Regions from separate parts of the Homo sapiens genome. Here all the other regions are reported to be linked to region 2. Evidence: microRNA targets listed by miRTarBase, many of them from high-throughput screens and not tested one by one. Region 2 holds a microRNA gene; each other region holds the end of a gene's coding sequence.

Region 1 (4,141 bases), not on the chromosome of region 2:
CAACCTCCAGGGGCTGCTGTGGGGGGATCCACGAGGCCCTGCCCATCCTGGAAGGCCGTGAGAGTGGACTTGGTAGTTGCACCCGTCAGCCAGTTCCCTTTCGCCCTGCTCGGTTGGACTGGCTCCAAGGTAGGCAGTGTGCCGCTGGGCCGCCTGGGGGTGGGGCTGGGCCAGCCCTGCTGAGGACAATCCCTTCCCTACAGCTTTTCCAGCGGGAGCTGCGCCGCTTCAGCCGGAAGGAGAAGGGCCTGTGGCTGAACAGCCATGGGCTGTTTGACCCGGAGCAGGTACATTGTTGGGGACTGGGGACAGCAAACAGCACCCATAGTCCGCTCCCTGACCCACAATCTGAAATGGCCCCAGACCCCTCCAGCCTGAAACCCATAGGACCCGAATCTGGGTCTCCACACACAGTTCCTGGCCCTCAAGAGCACACCCCACCTCGGCGCTGGGCTCTTCCCCACCCTCAGTCTTCCTGCAGGGAAGCAGCAGTGGCAAGACTCCTAGGTCACGGAAGTCCTGCTTCTGTTGCAGAAGACATTTTTCCAAGCGGCTTCAGAGGAAGACATCTTCAGACACCTGGGCCTTGAGTACCTTCCTCCAGAGCAGAGAAACGCCTGAGCCTGCCTGTGTCCCCCACTTCCACTCAGGAAATTGGGCTGCCCCCAACCTGGCCACTGAATGTCTCCAGGCAGATATGCTGCCCCCTGACCCCCACCTTCACCCCTCCCCGCCAAGGCCTGGCTCTTCCGGAGGTCAATTGTGCCTGCAGGATCAGTTGAGCCCCTGCTGGTGTGCTGCAGGGTGTGATGAGGTGGGAGCCCTCAGTGCCAGCCTCATCACTGTGTGACCCTGGGTCTGCTCTTAGCCTCCCCATGGCTCACGTTCCTGCCCTGGATGGGATGTGAGTGGGGCCCACATCGTGGAGCTGTGGTGGGGCCTGCAGTCATGAATGGCAAGTGGTCCCTGATGTGCAGTGTCTCATTAGTTGCACTGCAGTTAACTGTGGCTCCTGCAGGGCACCCTGCCCAGAATGCCCAGAAGAGAACCATGCATACCTGCACTGCATTTGAGAGCCATGAGCTGGAGGCTGTGGTTCGTGCCAGCAAGGAGCCTACTGTCTGGTGTGCTGTAGGCATCTGGAGAGGGAGAGGGCCTGGGTAGGAGCTGGGAGGAAGATAATTTTCAACTATGGGGCTTCAGTACTGCAGCGCCCCGAGCCAGGCTCTGTGCTTCTGCCTTTAAGGCCTGTTCTCAGCACAATGTCTCAAAAATAGGTCATATCCTGCCACTCCCGTCGCAGAGCCCTTTAATGGTTCCAAACCCTAAGTCCACACATAGCCCCTGGCTCTGGCATCTCTCCAGCCCCACTGGCCCCGAGCTGCTTGACTCACCGGCTTCCTATTTGATGCACCCAGGCCCCCTTGTGGCCAACTCCCTCCCCTTCTCACTGAGGCAGAAGCACTGAGGTGGGCTGGACATGGGTGCCCTCCACGTCCCTCATATCCCCAGGCACACTCTGGCCTCAGGTTTTGCCCTGGCCATGTCATCTACCTGGAGTGGGCCCTCCCCTTCTTCAGGCCTTGAATCAAAAGCCACTTTGTTAGGCGAGGATTTCCCAGACCACTCATCACATTAAAAAATATTTTGAAAACATGCAGTAAAGTTGACTCTTGGGGTGCAGTTTTTGCACACGTAGGGCACACCAGGTCCATCCCCAGAACACTTCCCATGCTGTCCTATTGTGGTCATGTGCTTCTCCACCCCCACCCACTTAGCGGTGCTACATCCCTATAGTTTTGCTTTCTCTAGAATGTCATGTAAATAGAACCAAACTATATTTAACCTTTGGACTGGCCTCTCCCCACAGCCTAATGCCTTTGACGTTCCTGCAGGTTGCTGGGTATGTTGAGTTTGTAATTTGTTCCATGCCATGGGTGTTCTACAGTTTATCCATTCAGGTGTTGAATGTCTGGGTTGTGGCCGGATGCCGTGGCTCATGCCTGTAATCCTAGCACTTTGGGAGGCTGAGACGGGTGGATCACTTGAGGCCAGGAGTTTGAGACCAGCCTGGCCACCATGGCGAAACCCCATCTCTACAAAAAATACAAAAATTTGCTGGGCATGTTGGCTCATACCTGTATTCCCAGCTACACGGGAGGCTGAGGCATAAGAATTGCTTGAACCTGGGATGCCAAGGTTGCAGTGAGCTGAGATTGTGCCACTGCACTCCAGCCTGGGCGACAGAGCAAGAGTCTGCCTAAAAAGAAAAAAAGTCTGGGTTGTTTCCAGGGTTTGGAGATGATGAATCGTACTGCTACAGACATGCATGTACAGGTTTTCGTGTAACACATGGGTCTTCATTTCTCTTGGGTAAATAGGCACAGGATTACTGGGTCATTTGGTAAGTATATGTTTATTTCATAAGAGCCAAGTTGTTGTCCCGAGTGCGTCTGTCATTTTGCAGTCCACCAGCGTTGTGAGCACCCCTGTAAGTTAAACACCACAGTAGGCAGTTGCTCTGTATCCCTGTCAGCACTTGATAGTTGCAGTATTTGTTAACTTTAGCTTTTCTAGTAGTAGGTACATAACAGTAGCTCACTGTGGTTTTATTTTCATTTCCCTAATGCCTGATAACGTTGAACATCTGTTCACTGGCTTCTATGTCCTCACTGGTGAAGTGGCTGTTCAAGTCTCATTTTTAAAAATGGAATTGTTGGCCAGGCATGGTGACTCACACCTGTAATCCCAGCACTTTGGGATGCCAAGGTGGGTGGATCACCTGAGGTCAGGAGTTCGAGACCAGCCTGGCCAACATGGCAAAACCCAAAGTGCTAGGATTACAGGCATGAGCCACCATGCCCATCTGTTACTGTTCAATCTTGAGAGTTCTTTATGTGCCACTATGGTGACTGGTAAATATTTTTTCCCAGTGTGTAGACTATCTTTCTTCTTTTAGCACTGTTTTTTTCATAGTAAATGTATTTAATTTTTGTGAAGTCCAGTTTATCAATTTATTCAGTTTACCAGTTTTTTTCTTATGTTTTTGGAGTCCTATCTCTGACCCCAAATCACAAAGATTTTCTTTGCTTTCTTTTATAGTTTGTTTCTTTGTTTTCCCCAGAAACAGGGTCTTGCTCTGTCACCCAGGCTGGAGTGCAGTAGTATGATCATAGCTCACTGCAGTCTCAAACTCCTGTGCTCAAGCAATCCTCCTGCCTCAGCCTCCCAAGTAGCTAGGACTACAGGCACAAGCCACCAAGCCCAGCTAATTTTTTTTTTTTGAGACGGAGTCTCGCTCTGTCGCCCAGGCTGGAGTGCAGTGGTGCGATCTCGGCTCACTGCAAGCTCTGCCTCCCGGGTTCACACCATTCTCCTGCCTCAGCCTCCCGAGTAGCTGGGACTGCAGGCACCCACCACCACGCCCGGCTAATTTTTTATATTTTTAGTAGAGACGGGGTTTCACCGTGTTAGCCAGGATGGTCTGGATCTCCTGACCTCGTGATCTGCCCACCTCGGCCTTCCAAAGTGCTGGGATTACAGGTGTGAGCCACAGTGCCCGGCCTTGAGTTAATTTTTATATAAGTGTAAAGTGGGGATTCATTGTTTTGCACGTGGAAATCCAGTTGTCCCAGCACCATTTGTTAAAGATACTATTCTTTACTCATTGAATTATTTTGGCACCCTTGTCAAAAATCAATTAACCATTGTGTGAAGGATTTTTCCCTGGACTCTCAATTTTTGCATATGTACTCATAAGAGGTTGGTCTGTAGTTTCCTTAGGTTGTTTGTCTGGGTTTGGTATCAGGGTAATACTGCCCTCAGAGAATGAGTTGTTACCTTTTACTTCAACCTACTTGTATCCTGTTATATTTAATGTGAGTTACTTAAAGACAGCATATAATTAGGTTTTTATAATCCAAACTGATAATATGTCGAATTGGCGTGATGAGGCCATTTATGTTTAATGCAACTATTGAAATGTTTGGCTTTAGATCTACCATTATGTTGTTTTCTGTTTGTTCCCTGTTTTCCATTGCTGTTTCTTCTTTCCTTTTTTCCTTCCCTCCTATCTCTCCTTCTCCCTATACACACACACACACACCCCCAACACACACACATAGTGGTTGTTCTAGGGGTT
Region 2 (4,272 bases):
GAGATTACGCCACTGCACTCCACCCTAGGTTACAGAGTGAGACTCTGTTTCAAAAAAACAAATGCACTCAGCAAAAGAAGACAGAAGTGTGTACCAGGGCAGTAAGTGGTATAGGGAGGGCTAAGGCAACTACGTGGTCAGTGAAGGCATCATGGAGGAAGAAGTGCCACCTAAGCAAAATCTAGAGGTAGATAAAGAGGTAAACCATGAGAGTATCTGGGGAAGGGTGTCCCAGGTAGTGGTCACAGTCAGTTCAAAGGCCCAGAGGTGGGAATGTGCTTTTTGTATTAGGAGAAGAGTGAGGAGGCTGGTGTGGCTGAAGGCGGAGGGTGAGAGGTGATAGAGCAGTTGGCGCAGGGCCCTGTGGGTCATGGGGAGAACTTGAACTTTTCCTCTGAAGAAGATGGGAGCCATGGAAATCTGAGCAGAAGGGTGCACGTGCTGACCTCATGATAAACTCTGTTCCCTCCCCCACAAGCCCAACGATGATCAAATATGGCATCAACAATATCCGGGAGCTGGTGGGCCACAAGGTGAACCTGCAGATGGTGTATGACAGTCCCCTGTGCCGCCTGGATGCCGAGCCGAGGCCCCCTCCCACACAGGAGGCTGCGTGACATGGGCCACTCTAGGACAGGTCATCCTCCCCGAGTCCCTGCTGCTGCGCTCCTTTGCATCCCTGGCCAGTGACCTTGTATTTATGAGGCCTCTGTGAGGCCAGCCCCCACCTTCCTCTTTCCCACCTGTCCCAGGACCAGAATCCCAGGGACAGAGGACTGGGTAGCAGGTTCCTTCTGTTGTCCTGTGTGGTGTGTCTACTGTGAGGGTGGGCCCTGAGGAGACCTGTGGGCCACCTATTGTCTAATAAAGTGGGCAGTTGCCCCCATCTGGTGGCTTTCCTTAGGGGTGAGGGGTCTTGTTGGGTCCCCCTAGCTCAGTGTGCCACTTGATGGTCAAAATTCTGGGTACTGGGCTGGGCGAGGTGGCCCGCGTCTGTAATCGCAGCACTTTGGGAGGCTGAGGCGGGCGGGTCACGAGGCCAGGCGATCGAGACCATCCTGGCTAACAGGGTGAAACCCCGTCTCTACTAAAAATACAAAAAAAAAAAAAAAAAGTATGGGTACTGAGCCAGGCACAGTGGCTCACTTCTGTAATCCCAGAACTTTTGGGAGGCCAAGGTGGGTGGGTCACTTGAGGTCAGGAATTCAGGAGCAGCCTGGCCAACGTGGTGAAACCCCATCTCTACTAAAAATAAAAAAATTAGGGCTGGGTGCGGTGGCTCATGCCTGTAATCCCAGCACTTTGGGAGGCTGAGGCGTGTGGATCATGAGGTCAAGAGATTGAGACCATCCTGGCCAACATGGTGAAACCCTGTCTACTAAAAATACAAAAAATTAGCCGGGCGTGGTGGCGGGTGCCTGTAGTCCCAGCTACTCAGGAGGCTGAGGCAGGAGAATGGTGTGAACCTGGGAGGCGGAGCTTGCAGTGAGCGGAGATCGCACCACTGCACTCCAGCCTGGGCAATAGAGCAAGACTCCGTCTCAAAAAAAAAAAAAAAAAAATTAGGCTGGGCGTGGTGGCTCACGCCTGTAATTCCAACACTTTGGGAAGCTGAGGCAGGCAGATCACTTGAGGTCAGGAGTTCGAGAGCAGCCTGGCCAACGTGGTGAAAACCCGTCTCTACTAAAAATACAAAAAAAAAGCTGGGCGTGGTGGTGAGCACCTGTAGTCCCAGCTACCCGGGAGGCTGAGGCACGAGAATCGTTTGAACCAGGAGGTGGAGGTTGCAGTGAGCCAAGATTGTGCCACTGCACTACAGCCTGGGTGACAGAAGAAGACTCTGTTCCAAAAAAAAAAACAAAAAACAAAAATTAGCAGGCATGATGGCAGGCACCTGTAGTCCCAGCTATCTGGGAGGCTGAGGTGGGAGAATCACTTGAACCCAGGAGGTGGAGGTTGTAGGGAGCTGAGATCACACCACTGCACTCCAGTCTGGGCCACAGAGTGAGACCTGTCCCCCAAAAACAGAAAACAAAAATTAGCTCAGCATAGTGGCTCATGCCTGTAATCCCAGGTACTCCAGAGACTGAGGTTGATCACTTGAGCCTGGGAGGTCGAGGCTGCAATGAGCCGTGATTACACCACTGCACTCCAGCCTGGGCAACAGAGTGAGACCCTGTCGTTAAATACATATTTATGTGTCTAAATAAACACAAGTACCCTGGAATCTTGCCATTTCCATCAAATCTGAACTTTGGCTGTGTAGGGGTGAAGAGAAAGCTTCCTTATTGCCCTCTGAAGTTTCACTAAAAATTACTGAGAAAAGGCAGATTAATAAGAGAAAAGGAATACGAATGTATTTGATCATAGTGTTACCTGACAAGCCTTCAGAATGAAGATCCAGAGATACAGGGGAAACTGTGTTTTTGTTTTGTTTTGTTTTGAGACGGAGTCTGGCTCTGTTCCCTGGGCTGGAGTGTAGGGGCGATCTTGGCTCACAGCAGCCTCAGCTTCCCAAGCAGCTGGGATTACAGGTGCCCGCCACCATGCCTGATTAATGAAAAGTGTCTTATGCTTAGGTTCAGCAAAGTTTGAACACCCAGGTAGAAATTTGATTGGACAAAAAGGGTTTGTCGTGGTTCATACTTGTAATCCTGACACTTTGGGAGGCTGAGGCGGGTGGATCACTTGAGGCCAGGAGTTTGAGACCAGCCTGAGCAACATGGAAAAACCCCATCTCTACTAAAAATACAAAAATTAGCTGGGCATGGTGCATCTGTAATCCCAGCTACTTGGTTGGCTGAGAATCGCTTGAACCTGGGAGGCCAAGGTTGCAGCGAGTTGAGATCTTGCCACTGCACTCCAGTGTTGCCTGGACAACAGAGCAAGACAAAAAAAAAAAAAAAAAAAAAAAGCCGGGGGGGTCGTCTAATACTAATAGGCTGAGTGGGGAAACCCAGCAAGGCCTATCTGTCTAGATTCTTCTTGGAGTCTCAGGAATGCATGCTCAGAGAGGCCAAGAAGAATCTAGATAGATAGGCCTTGTGTGGGGCAGAAACTTCTTTGAAACGGGGGTCTTATGACCTACAGTCAATAGGGTAGATCAGATAATTTCTTCTTTTTTTGAGACAGCACTTTGGGAGACCAAGACGGGAGGACGGCTTGAGCCCAGGAGTTGGGGATCAGCCTGGGCTCAGCACAGTGAGATCTCATTTCTACAGGAAAAAAAAATATAATTATGTGTGTGTGTGTGTGTGTGTGTGTGTGTATATATACATACAATCTTTTTTTTTTTTTTGAGACGGAGCTTTACTCTGTCACCCCGGCTGGAGTGCAGTGGCATGATCTCAGCTCACTGCAACCTCTGCGTCCTGGGTTTAAGCAATTCTCCTGCCCCAGCCTCCCGAGTAGCTGGGACTATAGGCGCCCGCCACCACGCCCGGCTATTTTTTGTATTTTTAGTAGAGACAGTTTCACCATGTTGGCTAGGCTGGTCTCGAACTCATGACCTCAGGTGATCCACCCGCCTCGGCCTCCCAAAGTGCTGGGATTACAGGCGTGAGCCACCGCGCCCGGCCAGAAAAATATTTTTAAATTAGAAGGGCCTGGTGAATGACACTGCTACTCAGGAGGCCGAGGCAGGAGGATCGCTTGAACCTGGGAGGTCGAGGCTACAGTGAGCTGTGATCGCACCACTGCACTCCAGCCTGGGCGACAGACCAAGATCTTGTCTCAAAAAAAAAAAAAAATTGTTATGGAGTATATTTTCCAAGGCAGAGTGGATGAAGTTAGAAGCACCGAATAAATACAGGACTCTGAGATCCGTATAACCTGGGCGCCCCGTGGAACCCAGGAGCCTCACAGGGGCACACAAGCGCACCCAGAGCGCGCCGTCCTGCTCCCAAGGGGCGCCGACTGCGCGCGCAGCCCGCGGACCGCGAAACTGCTGCTTAACGGTCGGCCCCGCCCAGTTGGCCGCGCAAGTTCTCAAAGAGGGCGGGGCCGGGAGCACGCGTCACAACACACTCGTCCGCGGGAGCGCAGCTGGCCAGGGGCGGGGTCGGCGCATGCGCAGAGGGTGCGAGCTTGAAGGCGGGAAAATACGGAATGGAGCGACAGGGAGTACGCGGCGCTTGTTTCCTTCTCGCGCGTGGGGCGGGCGGACAGATAGGCAGGGAACGGCTGCGATCCCAGCCATCTCCAGCGGACCCGAGCCCGGCCGCTTGTCCTTTGCCATTGGGGCTCCCTCTCATCAGGCCTGGCCTCAAATTT
Region 3 (4,293 bases), not on the chromosome of region 2:
TATGAGAAAAAGTATTTCTTTTAATAGAATGCAGTATAAGAGAAAATATCAAAGTACATTACAGGTAATTAGGGTAAGGGTCTCACGAAACAGAATTTGTTGGTTTACATGCATGTGTTAGATACACACATGTGAACACACTCTTCTTCGAGATCTTATCCACATCACTCCTCCCTCAATGTAGCCTGCTCAGTGAGGTCTTTTCCTCTCCATCCTATCTAAAATCAAACCTTGTATCTGACAACTTTTCCTATTTTGATTTTTCTTTATGGCGCTTATCATAGCCATCTTCTTTTCTTTTTTCATTTTTGTGTTGTGGACTGACTTTCAATAGATTACAGAGCAAATGTACTTTCTCAATATGACTGCTGGAAGCAATAAGGACACAAACTCTCTGGTCTACAGTGACCTCCCAATAAAAATATTCTAGGAGGGCTTGTCACTGGCCTATTTTACAACAAACTATCATTTCTGGATCAATACAAATGTGGAGGACATGAAGACACAGTACTCTGCAGAGCCAGGATTGGGGTAAATGCCACCCCGTGATCACAATGACATGTTCTATTACTAGAAGAATGCAGAAAAGTTGCATTGAGCAGTCAAAAGCAATAGTCATAACACATATTTAAGTACATAATAAAAATGTATCAAACTAACACAAGAAAGGGTGAATTAATCAAACAGTGCAGGGACAACTGGCTATTTATTTGGAAGAATACAGAGCTGCTTACCTTACACCACATACAATAAGAAACACCACAGGGAGGTATGAATAATGTAATTTAATATAATGTCTGCTTCACACATGTTGAAGGAGAGACATACCTGTGTAGTTCCAAAGGGAGTTTACTTATGCTAACAGGAAAGCAGAACAAACAGAAACACTTAACTTGCAACTAGTAGAATAACTTTATTTCTAACACTGAGCCTTCTACATAGGAATTTACAGAAATGAATAACACTGTGCTGCTTATTCTCCATTTCTCTTCCCAGATTCTCTCTCCACCCTTCTCTGTGCCCACCTGGGCTCTCCAGCAGATGTATCTGGTTGGTTTCTCCAAAGAGAGACACCAGCAATTTGGCACCACAGTTCTGGTAGTAATGATGTCTCTTACAAGGTGGCCCCTCCTTCATGACAGCAGTTCTTACTGGGCTCTGGTAACACTGTTTCCCTCCTTGCCCTTCAAGGCTCAGAATGGCAATGGCTTCCTGCTGATACAAGTCTCTGGGTGTTTCACTGTCCCTTGTTTCTGGCCCACACCACTGTAATCAGTCTGCCATTAAAATATTTTTAGTTGGAGAATTCTGTTTTCCACCAGAAAGAACCATGGCTGATACAAACAGCCATCCCTATATTAACTTGTGAAAAGAAATAATTCTTCCCCCTAATTACCATATAGAACATTAACACTTAGAAAAATATTCCTCTGTGTCAGCTGGAATGCCTTCAGCTCTAAGTATCAGACAGCCCTAAGACCAAATAAAAAACAGTTATTGAGGGTTATAAAAAGTCCCAGTAGAGAACAGGTATAGAGAGCAGAGTAGCTCGGCAACGTCACCTCTGAGCTGGCTTTTCCCACCTTGTGCACTGTTATCTTCAGGCTACTGCCCTTCAGAGATAAAAACGATAAGCCAATACCATGTTACAGACATGAAAAAGCCCAGCAGAGTCTCTTCTCATGTCATGACAATGTTGTATCAAGGAGATCTTTCCCAGAAGTACTACACAATACTTCCCAAACATCTCATTGCTCCCAAGTTCACCCCAACAGAATCATTAAAATGGAACTTCCATGATTAGCTTTGACTAATCTGGACTTACCACCTAAGTCATCTGGGAGAAGGATGCACAAAAATATAAAATTTAGCTCAGCAAGGATGAAGTAGGGAATGGCCATCATGTGGGCAGTGTCTCTTAGAACTGCTGACCAATGTGTTCCAAGGGGGCAAAAGAAACAACAGGACAAGGGAGGCAGAGATACTCTAAAATACTAATACGCAGAACTAGTGTTACATAGACCGTGCCCAAACAGATACACAATGAAAAATCAAGGATATCAAAAGGGCCTTTCATTACATACCGCCACTTTTTGAGGAGTGCAGTGTTACTGCTTGTTAACCTTTGCATAATTTATGTAAAAACCATTCTTATTAACAACATTTACATTACAGAATGACCCAGAGGTAGCTGAAAAACCTCAGAAAAGTACTGTTTAACTTCTTTACTGAAGTGATAGTTCAATAATGGCCATATTCATGCATATATGCCAGGAAACAGTCAGAGGAAAGGTACGTGATATAGTTCTTTGTGAAATAATATTTCACTAAAAACATATACTGGCCAACCTACAAAGAGACTCCGGTAGTATTTAGAGTAGGACAGATTCAGAGGTAGTTAAAAACCTCACGGAAATATTTTTGGCTTCTTTCTTGAAGACGTGGTTCAGCTGTAAATGGCCATAGCCATTTATTTATGTCAGGAAATAGAAGGGGTATGTGGTTTGTATTGCCAAATACGTTTTCATATATACACAGTGATGTGCTGTAAATATTTGACAGCAGGTTCTCTGAGAAAATTAAAACCCTGATTTATAGTTTGTCAATTTCCATGGTGTAAACACTCCCACTAAGTCCAAGCTACCAAGACAGCACTGAATGTGGAGCTGGGAAGAGACAGATGTGCAGTGCACACTATTATACAGTATTTTCATCATACAGATTAAATAAGTAAAACAGCAAAGGTAATAGTGAAATGTAGCAAAATAATTAGGAAGTGATGAGTGCTGAGTATTTATTACCTTTGTTTTTAACTGTAAGTTTACATATTTTAAATAATGACTGCTTTTAATAACTGGCTCACAAAATTCCTTAAAATTTAACAATCAGAACTTTTAAGTCAGTATGAGGTTATACTAGCACATCACTATATTTAAGTATGTGTGTAGAAATATATTTACATATACACACAAACATATGTACATACACATATATAATTATGTCAACCTATAAAGACACCAATGGTATTTAGTGTAGAAAATATTAACAAATACCATAGTAGTTACTCAATTAAGGGTACGTATCTTCTCCTTATGATCATGTTGAGTTCCAATATACAAATCAAGCATACTCAAATTTATATATTTGCATACTCACATAAGGTCTACAAACATCGGGGACTCTTCACATATATGTTTAATGCTGCTGTCATTCAACTTTTATAAGCTTCAGATTCCACTGTGAATATGGGTATAAATAAATATTGTCCATTATATTTGCAACAAAATTTTGGTATCACGTCTGGAATATAACACTAAACAACATAAATTCCAGATAAATATTTTCACCATATTACTTAGATGAATAGAATTCCCCTCAGTACAAATTTTCTAATGAAAAGTTTTAATTTTTCTTGAAAGCTTTTACATATTCAAACAAGAAGTCATTTTCTACAAATTTCTGACATTCTTTGGCTTTCTCTGATCTCCTTTTTTGAAACTGTATAACCAATTTCACAAGTGTATGAAGGCTTCTAACATTCAGGATGTTGAAAGAGCTTTCACCCTTGTGTGAATTCTCTGATGTTTGGTGAGCACTGACCTCTGACTAAAGGTCTTCCCACATGCATTACACTCATACGGCTTCTCCCCTGTGTGAGTCCTCTGATGTTTAGTGAGAGCTGATTTTTCACAGAAGGTTTTCCCACATTCATTACACTTATATGGTTTCTCCCCAGTGTGAGTTCTTTGATGTACAATGAGGTTTGACTTCACACAGAAGGATTTTCCACATTCATTACATATAAACGGTTTCTCCCCTGTGTGTGTTCTCTGATGCACAGTGAGGGCTGATCTGTGGCAGAAGGATTTCCCACATGCATTACATTCATAGGGCTTCTCCCCTGTGTGTGTTCTCTGATGTTCAGTGAGGTTTGACTTCACACAGAATGTTTTTCCACATTGCTTACATTCATAGGGTTTTTCTCCTGTATGTGTTCGCTGATGGTTGGTCAGGTGTGGTTTCTGGCAAAAGGCTTTCCCACATTCAGTACATTCATAGGGCTTCTCTCCTGTGTGTGTTCTCTGATGTTGAGTGAGGTTTGACTTCTCCCAGAAGGTTTTCCCACATTCACCACATTCAAAGGTTTTTTCTCCTGTGTGAGCTCTCCGAAGCTGGGTAAGATGTGACTTCTTGCTGAAATTACTCCCATTTTCATTGTAATCATAAGACTTTCCCCCCATGTGTACTATTTGATGTTTTAAGAGAGCTGACTTTTCCCAGGTTTTGTCACTC

The links. The annotated mature microRNA hsa-miR-5695 reads ACUCCAAGAAGAAUCUAGACAG and lies in region 2 at 2,971-2,992, opposite strand. An mRNA with a match to its seed (bases 2 to 7 or 8) in the 3' UTR can be bound and repressed. Matches are read on the target gene's strand: a 7mer-m8 pairs with bases 2 to 8, a 7mer-A1 pairs with bases 2 to 7 and ends in A, and an 8mer does both.
Region 1: miRTarBase lists POLM as a target of hsa-miR-5695. The part of its 3' UTR that is shown has no 7-base or 8-base seed match.
Region 3: miRTarBase lists ZNF248 as a target of hsa-miR-5695. Seed matches in the 3' UTR shown: 7mer-A1 at 1,058-1,064.

The regions. Positions count from the first base shown.
Region 1 is chr7:44,069,771-44,073,911 of GRCh38, reverse strand. POLM (DNA polymerase mu) reads left to right here. Exons shown (of 11, transcript NM_013284.4): 9 at 1-129; 10 at 204-287; 11 at 535-1,850. The coding sequence ends at 621. MIR6838 (microRNA 6838) reads left to right here and starts at 479; the gene lies at 479-534.
Region 2 is chr19:12,919,093-12,923,364 of GRCh38, reverse strand. It overlaps MIR5695 (microRNA 5695), which reads right to left and starts at 3,045; the gene lies at 2,961-3,045. It overlaps SYCE2 (synaptonemal complex central element protein 2), which reads left to right and starts at 4,072. Exons shown (of 6, transcript NM_001105578.2): 1 at 4,072-4,122. The coding sequence starts at 4,108. FARSA (phenylalanyl-tRNA synthetase subunit alpha) reads left to right here. Exons shown (of 13, transcript NM_004461.3): 13 at 479-886. The coding sequence ends at 617. RefSeq lists an enhancer at 4,253-4,272.
Region 3 is chr10:37,828,076-37,832,368 of GRCh38, forward strand. ZNF248 (zinc finger protein 248) reads right to left here. Exons shown (of 6, transcript NM_021045.3): 6 at 688-4,293. The coding sequence ends at 3,540. Among named protein-coding and RNA genes, the nearest start is that of ZNF248, 27 kb to the right of the region's middle.